Homo sapiens: one gene and its partner. The protein of the gene in region 1 purifies or fractionates together with the protein of each later gene. This does not show direct contact. Each region holds a gene or a part of one and is shown on either strand. Other genes may lie near its edges. The genes, in order: SLC45A3 and EIF4B.

Region 1 (6,442 bases):
TGTCGAGTACGGAATGTTATTTCCATCCTTCTCACGGAGCTTGGTTCCCCTTCCCCTTGCCCTTTACTTGTCCCAGCCATTGACTCATACTACTTCCCTTCTTGCAGGCATTGGTCCAGTGCTGGGCCTGGTCTGTGTCCCGCTCCTAGGCTCAGCCAGTGACCACTGGCGTGGACGCTATGGCCGCCGCCGGCCCTTCATCTGGGCACTGTCCTTGGGCATCCTGCTGAGCCTCTTTCTCATCCCAAGGGCCGGCTGGCTAGCAGGGCTGCTGTGCCCGGATCCCAGGCCCCTGGAGCTGGCACTGCTCATCCTGGGCGTGGGGCTGCTGGACTTCTGTGGCCAGGTGTGCTTCACTCCACTGGAGGCCCTGCTCTCTGACCTCTTCCGGGACCCGGACCACTGTCGCCAGGCCTACTCTGTCTATGCCTTCATGATCAGTCTTGGGGGCTGCCTGGGCTACCTCCTGCCTGCCATTGACTGGGACACCAGTGCCCTGGCCCCCTACCTGGGCACCCAGGAGGAGTGCCTCTTTGGCCTGCTCACCCTCATCTTCCTCACCTGCGTAGCAGCCACACTGCTGGTGGCTGAGGAGGCAGCGCTGGGCCCCACCGAGCCAGCAGAAGGGCTGTCGGCCCCCTCCTTGTCGCCCCACTGCTGTCCATGCCGGGCCCGCTTGGCTTTCCGGAACCTGGGCGCCCTGCTTCCCCGGCTGCACCAGCTGTGCTGCCGCATGCCCCGCACCCTGCGCCGGCTCTTCGTGGCTGAGCTGTGCAGCTGGATGGCACTCATGACCTTCACGCTGTTTTACACGGATTTCGTGGGCGAGGGGCTGTACCAGGGCGTGCCCAGAGCTGAGCCGGGCACCGAGGCCCGGAGACACTATGATGAAGGTAAGGCCTTGGCAGCCAGCAGAGGCTGGTGTGGGAGCCGCCCACCAGAGACGACACTCGGGGCTGTGTCTGGGCTGGTGCCTCTCCATCCTGGCCCCGACTTCTCTGTCAGGAAAGTGGGGATGGACCCCATCTGCATACACGGCTTCTCATGGGTGTGGAACATCTCTGCTTGCGGTTTCAGGAAGGCCTCTGGCTGCTCTAGGAGTCTGATCAGAGTCGTTGCCCCAGTTTGACAGAAGGAAAGGCGGAGCTTATTCAAAGTCTAGAGGGAGTGGAGGAGTTAAGGCTGGATTTCAGATCTGCCTGGTTCCAGCCGCAGTGTGCCCTCTGCTCCCCCAACGACTTTCCAAATAATCTCACCAGCGCCTTCCAGCTCAGGCGTCCTAGAAGCGTCTTGAAGCCTATGGCCAGCTGTCTTTGTGTTCCCTCTCACCCGCCTGTCCTCACAGCTGAGACTCCCAGGAAACCTTCAGACTACCTTCCTCTGCCTTCAGCAAGGGGCGTTGCCCACATTCTCTGAGGGTCAGTGGAAGAACCTAGACTCCCATTGCTAGAGGTAGAAAGGGGAAGGGTGCTGGGGAGCAGGGCTGGTCCACAGCAGGTCTCGTGCAGCAGGTACCTGTGGTTCCGCCTTCTCATCTCCCTGAGACTGCTCCGACCCTTCCCTCCCAGGCTCTGTCTGATGGCCCCTCTCCCTCTGCAGGCGTTCGGATGGGCAGCCTGGGGCTGTTCCTGCAGTGCGCCATCTCCCTGGTCTTCTCTCTGGTCATGGACCGGCTGGTGCAGCGATTCGGCACTCGAGCAGTCTATTTGGCCAGTGTGGCAGCTTTCCCTGTGGCTGCCGGTGCCACATGCCTGTCCCACAGTGTGGCCGTGGTGACAGCTTCAGCCGCCCTCACCGGGTTCACCTTCTCAGCCCTGCAGATCCTGCCCTACACACTGGCCTCCCTCTACCACCGGGAGAAGCAGGTACTCATTGGCCAGTGGGTGGAGTCAGGGTGGGAGGGGTGGTCTGGGTTTTTGGGAGGCCAACTAGCTCAGAACCTGGTATCTGGCAAGCAACTTTGGAGAATGCTTCTTTGAATCAGAGAAGAAGCTTATCCTAGCCCCAGGGCCAGAGGCTTGGGCTGCAGAACAGTGTAGATTAGATTCTGGGAATGACTTCCTGGGGTCAGGACTGTGTAGCACTTGAATGGATGATTGCAGGAAATGCAAAATACGATAGTGGGAATCCCGAAGGGTCAGGCCAGCAGGAGCCCTAGGCTTCTAGGCTGGTTGTTCTATGGAGAGGCAGGGCGCTGAATCAGATGACCCCTGGGCCATTCAGCCTCAGCAGACGGGAGTGGGAATGGTCCAGCCTTAGCAACACCTTTCTTCAGGGAGCAGCAACCTGACTTAGCCTGTATCCTACTCTGGTCTCTGAGATGGGGCAGGCTCCTTCCTACCCCCTTTCTTTCTGGCTTATTTTTCTTTTCTGTCTAATTCCCTTTTCTTTTCCTGCATCCCTCCTTTGCCTCCTTCCCTTTCTCCTTCCCCTTCCCCTTCCCCTGTGGCAGATATCTGAGCTTGACACCTGACCCACTCACTTGGGCACTGTGTAAGTTGTGGGGACCTCCTTCTTGGTTGGCCCTACACTAACCAGCCCCTCCAGGGGCCCCTTTCCTTGGGAAGCCACCTAACCCAGGTAGTGTGGTCATCCTTGTCCCCTCCACTGACCTCACTGAGCTACAAACCTGGGTGCTGGACTCTGCCTTGAGGGGCATGAAGTTGGGGTGTCCCAAGGGAGGAGGAGATGCAGGACTGCTCTCATAGAGCTCTCAGACTGTAGGGAAGACCTGCCCCTGCGTCTCGTAGCACTTGAGGAGAGGAGTAGGTAAGTTCGTAGCTGAGAGGCTGGTTAACTGAGTAGGTAGCTGCAGGGGTGAGAGGTATGGAGGGGAGGGGCTAAGGTTTTGGTTGGGGGAGCCTGGTCCCTGAGACCCCTGTTAGCCCACTGATAACCTTCTTCAGCCTTCACTCTTCTGCTTGCCTGGGCTGGGGGCAGGGGGCTGGCATCAGCGGCCAGGCCTGAGTATGTGCTGTCGTGCCAGGGAACGTTCTGGGGCTAGCCATCTTCTCCAGATGGAGGAGCATGTCTGTCCTCGGACCACTCCAGACTCCAACCTCAGCGGACATTCCTGGGGTGGCAGGCAGGGAGGAGAAGTCCTGGGAGGCCCCTTCCTAACAGCAGCTGATGGCAGACTTGGCACTGCACGCTGTCTGCCTGTTCCTTTGCCCACTTGTTGAGCTGCATGGTGAGCCGTGGGCTTCCCTGGTGTCAGGTTTGAGCTCTGCCATGGCTCCCACCTCGCAAATGCAGCCAACTCAACTCTTCTGGCATGGGGACAATGTTGGATAAGACCTGGCCTTGTCCTTAAATAGGAGGCTCTGGGCCATCAAGGGCAGGGGTTGGGGGGATGGTGGTCGACCAGTCACTCTGATCTAAGTCAGACAGCAGGAAGGAAGTGAGAAGCCTTCAACATTAGCACAGCTGGGGCTGGGGGAGGTGGGAAGAGGGACATTCCTCCTGCTTGGGGTCTACTGGATTCTCCCTGCCCCAAGGCTGGGGACAAGGGAGCTCATGGCAGGGCAGCTACCCTAGTGGCATCTGGGACCCCAGAGAGGCAGAGCTTCTCTGCACCGGGCAATGAGGATTTCCAGATGTCGGAGTGGAGGGCAGGCAGGAAGGAAGGTTAGGAGAGCCTGCGTGGGGTTTGGGCCATCAGGGGCCCTGCCTTGGCTTTTGTTCCTCTGTTCTGTGCATCTCTTACCACCGTCTTCATTCCCCCTGTGTCTTTTCCTTACCTTGGAGCTCTGTTCTCTCTGATCTGTGATATTGAGTTTGTCTGCCTCTTACCTGTTCTAAGAGGCTAGAGGAGACCTAGACTTCTGGGTTCACATTTGTCCCCGCCCTACCCCGTTACCCTTCTCCCACTCCTGAGGAAGGGTCCTGGTTAGACTTGGACCAAGTAGGGTCTCCATCTTCTCTCCTGCTCCTGATTCTCATGAAGTCCCATTGCCCCTGGGATGGAGGCAAGGGTCTGTTCTCACAGCTGGGGTGGTGCCAGTGCTGGGTACACACCTGTCCTCTTCCCCTTTTCTTCACCCCTCTGCCTTAGGTGTTCCTGCCCAAATACCGAGGGGACACTGGAGGTGCTAGCAGTGAGGACAGCCTGATGACCAGCTTCCTGCCAGGCCCTAAGCCTGGAGCTCCCTTCCCTAATGGACACGTGGGTGCTGGAGGCAGTGGCCTGCTCCCACCTCCACCCGCGCTCTGCGGGGCCTCTGCCTGTGATGTCTCCGTACGTGTGGTGGTGGGTGAGCCCACCGAGGCCAGGGTGGTTCCGGGCCGGGGCATCTGCCTGGACCTCGCCATCCTGGATAGTGCCTTCCTGCTGTCCCAGGTGGCCCCATCCCTGTTTATGGGCTCCATTGTCCAGCTCAGCCAGTCTGTCACTGCCTATATGGTGTCTGCCGCAGGCCTGGGTCTGGTCGCCATTTACTTTGCTACACAGGTAGTATTTGACAAGAGCGACTTGGCCAAATACTCAGCGTAGAAAACTTCCAGCACATTGGGGTGGAGGGCCTGCCTCACTGGGTCCCAGCTCCCCGCTCCTGTTAGCCCCATGGGGCTGCCGGGCTGGCCGCCAGTTTCTGTTGCTGCCAAAGTAATGTGGCTCTCTGCTGCCACCCTGTGCTGCTGAGGTGCGTAGCTGCACAGCTGGGGGCTGGGGCGTCCCTCTCCTCTCTCCCCAGTCTCTAGGGCTGCCTGACTGGAGGCCTTCCAAGGGGGTTTCAGTCTGGACTTATACAGGGAGGCCAGAAGGGCTCCATGCACTGGAATGCGGGGACTCTGCAGGTGGATTACCCAGGCTCAGGGTTAACAGCTAGCCTCCTAGTTGAGACACACCTAGAGAAGGGTTTTTGGGAGCTGAATAAACTCAGTCACCTGGTTTCCCATCTCTAAGCCCCTTAACCTGCAGCTTCGTTTAATGTAGCTCTTGCATGGGAGTTTCTAGGATGAAACACTCCTCCATGGGATTTGAACATATGAAAGTTATTTGTAGGGGAAGAGTCCTGAGGGGCAACACACAAGAACCAGGTCCCCTCAGCCCACAGCACTGTCTTTTTGCTGATCCACCCCCCTCTTACCTTTTATCAGGATGTGGCCTGTTGGTCCTTCTGTTGCCATCACAGAGACACAGGCATTTAAATATTTAACTTATTTATTTAACAAAGTAGAAGGGAATCCATTGCTAGCTTTTCTGTGTTGGTGTCTAATATTTGGGTAGGGTGGGGGATCCCCAACAATCAGGTCCCCTGAGATAGCTGGTCATTGGGCTGATCATTGCCAGAATCTTCTTCTCCTGGGGTCTGGCCCCCCAAAATGCCTAACCCAGGACCTTGGAAATTCTACTCATCCCAAATGATAATTCCAAATGCTGTTACCCAAGGTTAGGGTGTTGAAGGAAGGTAGAGGGTGGGGCTTCAGGTCTCAACGGCTTCCCTAACCACCCCTCTTCTCTTGGCCCAGCCTGGTTCCCCCCACTTCCACTCCCCTCTACTCTCTCTAGGACTGGGCTGATGAAGGCACTGCCCAAAATTTCCCCTACCCCCAACTTTCCCCTACCCCCAACTTTCCCCACCAGCTCCACAACCCTGTTTGGAGCTACTGCAGGACCAGAAGCACAAAGTGCGGTTTCCCAAGCCTTTGTCCATCTCAGCCCCCAGAGTATATCTGTGCTTGGGGAATCTCACACAGAAACTCAGGAGCACCCCCTGCCTGAGCTAAGGGAGGTCTTATCTCTCAGGGGGGGTTTAAGTGCCGTTTGCAATAATGTCGTCTTATTTATTTAGCGGGGTGAATATTTTATACTGTAAGTGAGCAATCAGAGTATAATGTTTATGGTGACAAAATTAAAGGCTTTCTTATATGTTTATTGGCATGTGTTTCTTTTAGGAGGGGGAAAGACCTGATCTTTCTACAACATTCTTAACTCTCAGTTCAGGGAGCCCTTTGGCTTTTGACAGCTTCACTTCCCAGTGGCCACCAGCAGGTGGAGGCATAGACCAGCACTCTTTGTGTCAATTGCCAATTGTGGGGGGTTGTGCTGCACCTTGGACTGGGGGGTTTCGGAGTTGGGGAGAGGGGGTCAGAAAGAGTCTGAAGTGTGGGGCAATGGTGGCATTTTCCTTCTAAAAGACCCCTGAGTAGGGATGGGCATGATGACTCACGCCTGTAATCCCAGCACTTTGGGAGGCTGAGGCAGGTGGATCACTTGAGGTCAGGAGTTCCGAGACCAGCCTGGCCAACATGATGAAACCCTGTCTCTACTAAAAATATAAAAAATTAGCCAGGTGTGGTGGTGCGTGCCTGTAATCCCAGCTACTCGGGAGGCTGAGGCAGGAGAATCGCTTGAATCCAGGAGGTGGAGGTTGCAGTGAGCCGAGATCGTGCCATTGCACTCCATCCTGGGTGACAAGAGTGAAACTCCATCTCAAAAAAT
Region 2 (5,543 bases), on another chromosome or scaffold:
TCCAATTGGCTGGGAAATCATTTAACTGGCTCCTCATCTTGGCTCTTAAATCCCCAAAATTGTTGACTGAGGTTTCCCGGGCTCCTTTCTATGCTCCACCTCCTTGTGACCTTAAGGATTCTCTGCCACTGTCCTAACCCCTTTCCCGCCTTGCAACAATGACCAGTCTGTCCCTAGCTGTTTGGAAAATTCCCACTGAGTCTGTGAGCCTCTGTTCTGGTAACCTCGACCAGCCTGTCACCAGTATCTCTGGTCCACCAGTGCGGTGTAACTCAAGGGAGCAGCATCTCTCCAGATTGCTGAAGTGAGGGAGGGAGATTATGAGGGAACTGCCCCAAGGACACAAGGATTCATTCTTAGAGTTCCCACATCTTGATTAAAATAAACAGTACAGGAAATAGACTGCAGGCACATCCAGGTGATTAAAAAATTTAACACCAGGCAAAAAAAAAAAAAAAAAAAAAAAAAAAAGCCAGAGGGGAGCTAGGATGCAAACTCTATTATTGGGCCTCAATAAACACTGAAATAGATTCCCTTGTAACCCCACCCTCTAATCTTGGACAATATGGTATCCAATACTGAATGAAAACTTCAGAGATGGTAGGAGGAGGAGGAGCAGGTGGTCAATGACTACAGTAAAAACCACTGGGAGTGCAGAGTATTTGTCAAAGAACTTCAGCATTACAATGAACTTTAAAGATCAGATTTATTTGGAGAAAACAAAAAACCCACAACCCAAAGGATGGGATTTTACATCAAGACATCTCCCAGGTAATAAGTCTACAGATTACAAATCATTTTCATAGAAGATATTTTTGTACAAATTTTACATGTATTCAGGAGCGGGACATTAATCAATCCCTGTTTCTATTTTAATAGGGGGGACAAGGTAGGGGAGAGGGAAAAACAGTTTTGGATATAACTATTTGGAAGGAGAGTAGACATGAAGAGGGCAAACCCTAGCTTTTCATTATCTACAATCAATAGTTTGTTTTTCTTTTTTAAAAAAGAAAGAAAAACCCTTTCAATCTTCAATACTCTTTAAAAGCCCACTTCTTAGCTACTGGCCAATCCACACCAATTATTTAAATTCACTTGGTACACACCTTTGTCCACTGGGTAAATTATATTCATTATGCCCACTGCTGCAGCACGCATAAACCAACACCCCTGCATGGCTGAACAGGGCCTAATCTAGGACTGATGGGAGAAGGGCTTGCAAACCAAGATCAAGGTGTTTCTCCGCTAATACTGTCTACCAAGCTGATCCCTACAAAAATGCATATAAAAGCAGGCAAGTTTAGCTACTGTGTTGCAAGAGAAACCAGGACCTTGTTAAATAGTTCTCTCCATTACCATTTATTCTCTCAAGGGAAGCTTAAAAAAACAACAACAAAACAACACATTGGTCTGGCCACCTCATGAATCCAACAAGCATTAGTGTGGCATTTCAGTGGAGAAGGAAACTTGGGGGGAAAAATCCCATCAAGGTTGTAAGAAAGGCTCCCAATTTAACTGTCCCTGTCCCTATTTATCCATCATCCAAGACCATCCATTATTCTAGAGCACTCTGATCAATAAAAGGGGTCCAAGCATCAGGAGCAGGCAAGGAGAACCAAAAGACATCAAGAAACCGATTTGCTTGAGAAAAGCAGCGATTCTTCCTTTCAGAGTTCTCCATGGCTGAGAAAATGCCCAAGACATCATGTATGTGACTTAGATACTGCTTTTTGGGAGGTTAAGAGTAGCATGAAGAACTTAAGATGATGATAAGAGTCTAAATTTTTAGTTTCAAGGTTTCAATAGAATGTGGATATATTCAAAACTTTCAAAAAGGACAGTGTTTAGAAAGGGTAAAACTAGGACACAGAAAACACTGGGAATTACCACGACCCCCAAGTGCTTCCGGCTCCAGGAAATAACCATTCATGTGTTTGCTGGAGGTCACACAATTTTCCCCTATTACCTGGTGCAAAATGACTCATCACTTCCCAAAAGCTTCTTTTCAAACCACGATTTTCCCATTTATTTTGGTCCAATGCAGTCCCATTCTTTATGGCCTATAGTCTCACTCCCAACTACCCCCCTGGGGGGTTAAAAAAAAAAAAGGAATTCCCTCTAGGCTGGCCCCCAAAACTCAGAATTAAATAAGAGGAGGGGCTGGCAGCCTCCTGGAGACTAGAACAACTTGAGGCTAAATCTACCTTTCCAAGAGTGGAAAATTTATTCAGATAATGTTTGAGAATTCATATATGCCACAATAGGATAAAAACTAAAAGGTAGAAATCTCACACTTTTCCTTCTACCTCCCTCCCCTACTGCCCAACCAGGTTCCAGGCATTATATCACTGTCATTACCATTTCTGCTAAATGGAGACCCCTAGGCACTAATCACACTGGCAACTGCATGGTGACATAACGCACCACAACTTTTCCTCTAAAAAGCTGTAGTCCCTTTCTCTCTGGCTGTATTGGCAATTCTCCAGTTACTTCAATACTTTAAAGGCTGCAGCAGCATGCAAAATAATTTCATTTTTTGTTTTTAAAAAAAGGTAAGAAAGGTCTTCAGGAGATGGTGAGTTTTATTTTGTCTTGTCTGGATAGAGGTTTTGATTTGCTCTCGAATGTTCCAGGGTGGAGAGAAACTAGGAGAAAAGCACAGGATGTAGAGGTCTATTCGGCATAATCTTCTCCCTCATTTTCATCTTCACCATCAACAGAGAGAGCAGCATACTTGCTTGCAGAACTGAACTTCTGTAACACAACGAGAGTGACAGGATAATGAAGGCCCTGAATTATCACATCAAAACCCAAGACACAGGATACTGATCCTTTGGCAATGGGGGATGACAGTCAGATGACACCCACTTGCTTGCTCATCAGCATTGTCCATTGGAGAGGAGCTAGGGAAGAGGGTCAGAGGCACATGCGATCTTACTATAGTCTCATACCACCTCTACACCTTGCAGAAGGGATGAGAACAAAGGAAGACAGAAACCAGGAAAAAGCTAAACTTCTTTCGCTATTTCAGTAAAGACCAATGTCTTATTTCCAAACACTTTGTATTCCAAATGGAAAGAAGTCCAACGGCAAAAAGTTTAGAATACTAAGAATTTTTAATTCTTAGTAAGAATACTTAGAATTCTAAGAATTTTTCTTAGAATGAAAAATTGGGAGCAGCCTTCAACACTTACGGAAGCTGGATTTTCCTCAGGTTTCTTTGGCTCAGGTGCAGATCTGGAGTCTTGATCCTTTTTGCCATCTTTCCTGCAGAGACGTAAGCATAAAACCATGTCTTTAGGAAAGGACTCGCCTAATACAAACATGTGTATGCATGCAGTTTCAAGGCACTGAACAGGCACCTCTAGTCAACAGTCCTTGTTGTCTGGATGATGTATTACTTCTAGATTTTCAGAATCTTAACTGTCTACGTTGGCTGACTTTAGTTTGCTCACAATGAGCGATCTGGCAGTGCTCTGAGAACCAAGAACTTAATTTCTTAATTACACAAACATGTGGATCAGAGGAAAGATGAGAAAGAGAACAAGCATACCTATCTGACTCCTTCCAGTGGTCTCTGTTCCCTCCGTCGCCTGGACCACGGCTAGAGTTCCCAGTTTGGCCTTTTGGGGCATTCATCCCATCTACTTTATTTTCATCTGCTTGGGCAGTAATGTAAACAAATTAAAGGCAAGTAAAAGTATCAATGTCCCTCTCCTAAGATTTCCCTTAAGCTGAAGAAAATTGTGCCCACATGTACTGAGGGAAACTAACCTCACCCCAACCCAGACTTCCTTCCTGAAGCCCTTCTTTCCACATCCTCTACAGCACACAAAAATACAAAAAACAAACAAAATCCACTAAAAAGTTCCATGTAGGGATATGCCATCATGAAAAGCAAGCTGGAAATAAAGATTATGACGCTCTGTAGTGACCTTGGTTAATTTCCTTCCGATTTTTTTCTCCCCGTCAAAGAAATGTTCTACCAGGAAAGGGCAGGGTTTCATACTTTCTCCAAAGAGGCCACTCCTCCCTCTACTGGCAAGAAAAGGTAGATAACCCAATAATTCTTTTTTTTTTGAGACAGAGTCTTGCTCTGTCGCCCAGGCTGGAGTGCAGTGGGGCCATCTTGGCTTACTGCAACCTCCGTCTCCCGGGTTCAAGCAATTCTCCTGCCTCAGCGTCTCCCGAGTAGCTGGGATTACAGGCATGTGCCACCACACCCGGCTAATTTTTTTTGTATTTTTAATAGAGACGGGGTTTCACCATGTTGGTAAGGCTGGTCTCAAACTCCTGCCCTGTGATCTGCCCGCCTTGGCCTCCCAAAGTGCTGGGATTACAGGTGTGAGCCCCTGCGCCTGGCCAACCCAAGAACTCTTAACACGGTATCAGGTGCGAGACACACTGCTCTTCAAAATCTAATTTTGGAGGCCTTTTTATTTAGGCTTCTAGGTGAAAAACCTATTTCCCATACTATGAGCTCACCTTTCCTTCCTGGTCCTTCCTCAGATGGTTGAGCTGGAGCTACTTTTCCCCCACCACTAGAAGGAAAACAGGTAATCACATTCATCAGTTGTTTCAGGGAGAAAACAACCAAGAAACATAATCATCCTCCAAATGCAGTGGGTAAGCTTTATAGAAAACAAAATCATACTCAATGTTATGGAACATTAAAATATGGGAAAGATTACAATGAAAGCAGTAATTTGAACACTAAAGTGCCATATGCTTTCTAATCATCACATCATGCAGGATTAGTATTGCTATTTTCTTTTCTTTTGGAGTCTTAACTCTGTCGCCCAGGCTGGAGTGCAATGGCACATCTCGGCTCACTGCAACCTCCGCTCTCAGGTTCAAGCAATTCTCCTGCCTCAGCCTCCCGAGTAGCTGGGATTACAGGTACCTGCCACCACGCCAGGCTAATAGTGTTGCTATTTTGCTTACAAATGAGAAGACTTAAGAGAAATGAAAGGAAGTTACCCCCTACCATACTGCCAATATGTGGCAAAAGGGAAGCCTCTGACTTACAGTATTTGCAGATTTGTGCGGCATTAGTACTCCCATCATAGCTGATTTCAAGCTATCAAAGTGGTGGAACTCCAGAAAATGGAACAACTAGGTCTTATGAGCCAGTTCCAGCACACTAAGAGACTAAAGCCAGCATAACTTATAAGGTGCTATACAACGCTGGCATCCCGTAGGAGATCTTCCATCATTACATCACAGTATTTTAGAATCTGCAGTTAACCAACTACTGTTTCCAAACTGACTCACCTTGTAGGGGACTGCTGCTCTGTGTCTGAGCTCTGAGATCGAGCAGGAGGGTTAGAACTTCGCTTCACCCAAGCATTCTCCTTTGGTGGAGGGGCTGGCATTACCTTTAGGGGCTGATCAGGTTTGGGAGGTTTAGAAGTTGGAGAGTGGCAATCTTCCTCCTTATTGAGTGTTTCATTTTCTAGAGACTTCTCACTCTCTCTCCTTCGTGCATCTGTGAAGCCAGAGTGAAAATATCAAATTATCAGGCTGCAGATGCTCACGCATCT

Evidence for each region.
Region 2: the proteins of SLC45A3 (region 1) and EIF4B purify together in Homo sapiens (affinity purification with mass spectrometry; 2 studies listed by BioGRID and IntAct, with this or other methods). This does not show direct contact.

What each region holds. Positions count from the first base shown.
Region 1 is NC_000001.11:205,657,284-205,663,725, reverse strand, and holds the end of SLC45A3 (solute carrier family 45 member 3), read left to right. Parts: intron 1-107; coding exon 108-893; intron 894-1,599; coding exon 1,600-1,865; intron 1,866-4,054; coding exon 4,055-4,492; 3' UTR 4,493-5,875; downstream 5,876-6,442. UniProt on the Homo sapiens protein: Proton-associated sucrose transporter. May be able to transport also glucose and fructose.
Region 2 is NC_000012.12:53,037,354-53,042,896, reverse strand, and holds the end of EIF4B (eukaryotic translation initiation factor 4B), read right to left. Parts: intron 5,489-5,543; coding exon 5,275-5,488; intron 4,542-5,274; coding exon 4,486-4,541; intron 3,660-4,485; coding exon 3,554-3,659; intron 3,268-3,553; coding exon 3,195-3,267; intron 2,755-3,194; coding exon 2,674-2,754; 3' UTR 682-2,673; downstream 1-681. UniProt on the Homo sapiens protein: Required for the binding of mRNA to ribosomes. Functions in close association with EIF4-F and EIF4-A. Binds near the 5'-terminal cap of mRNA in presence of EIF-4F and ATP.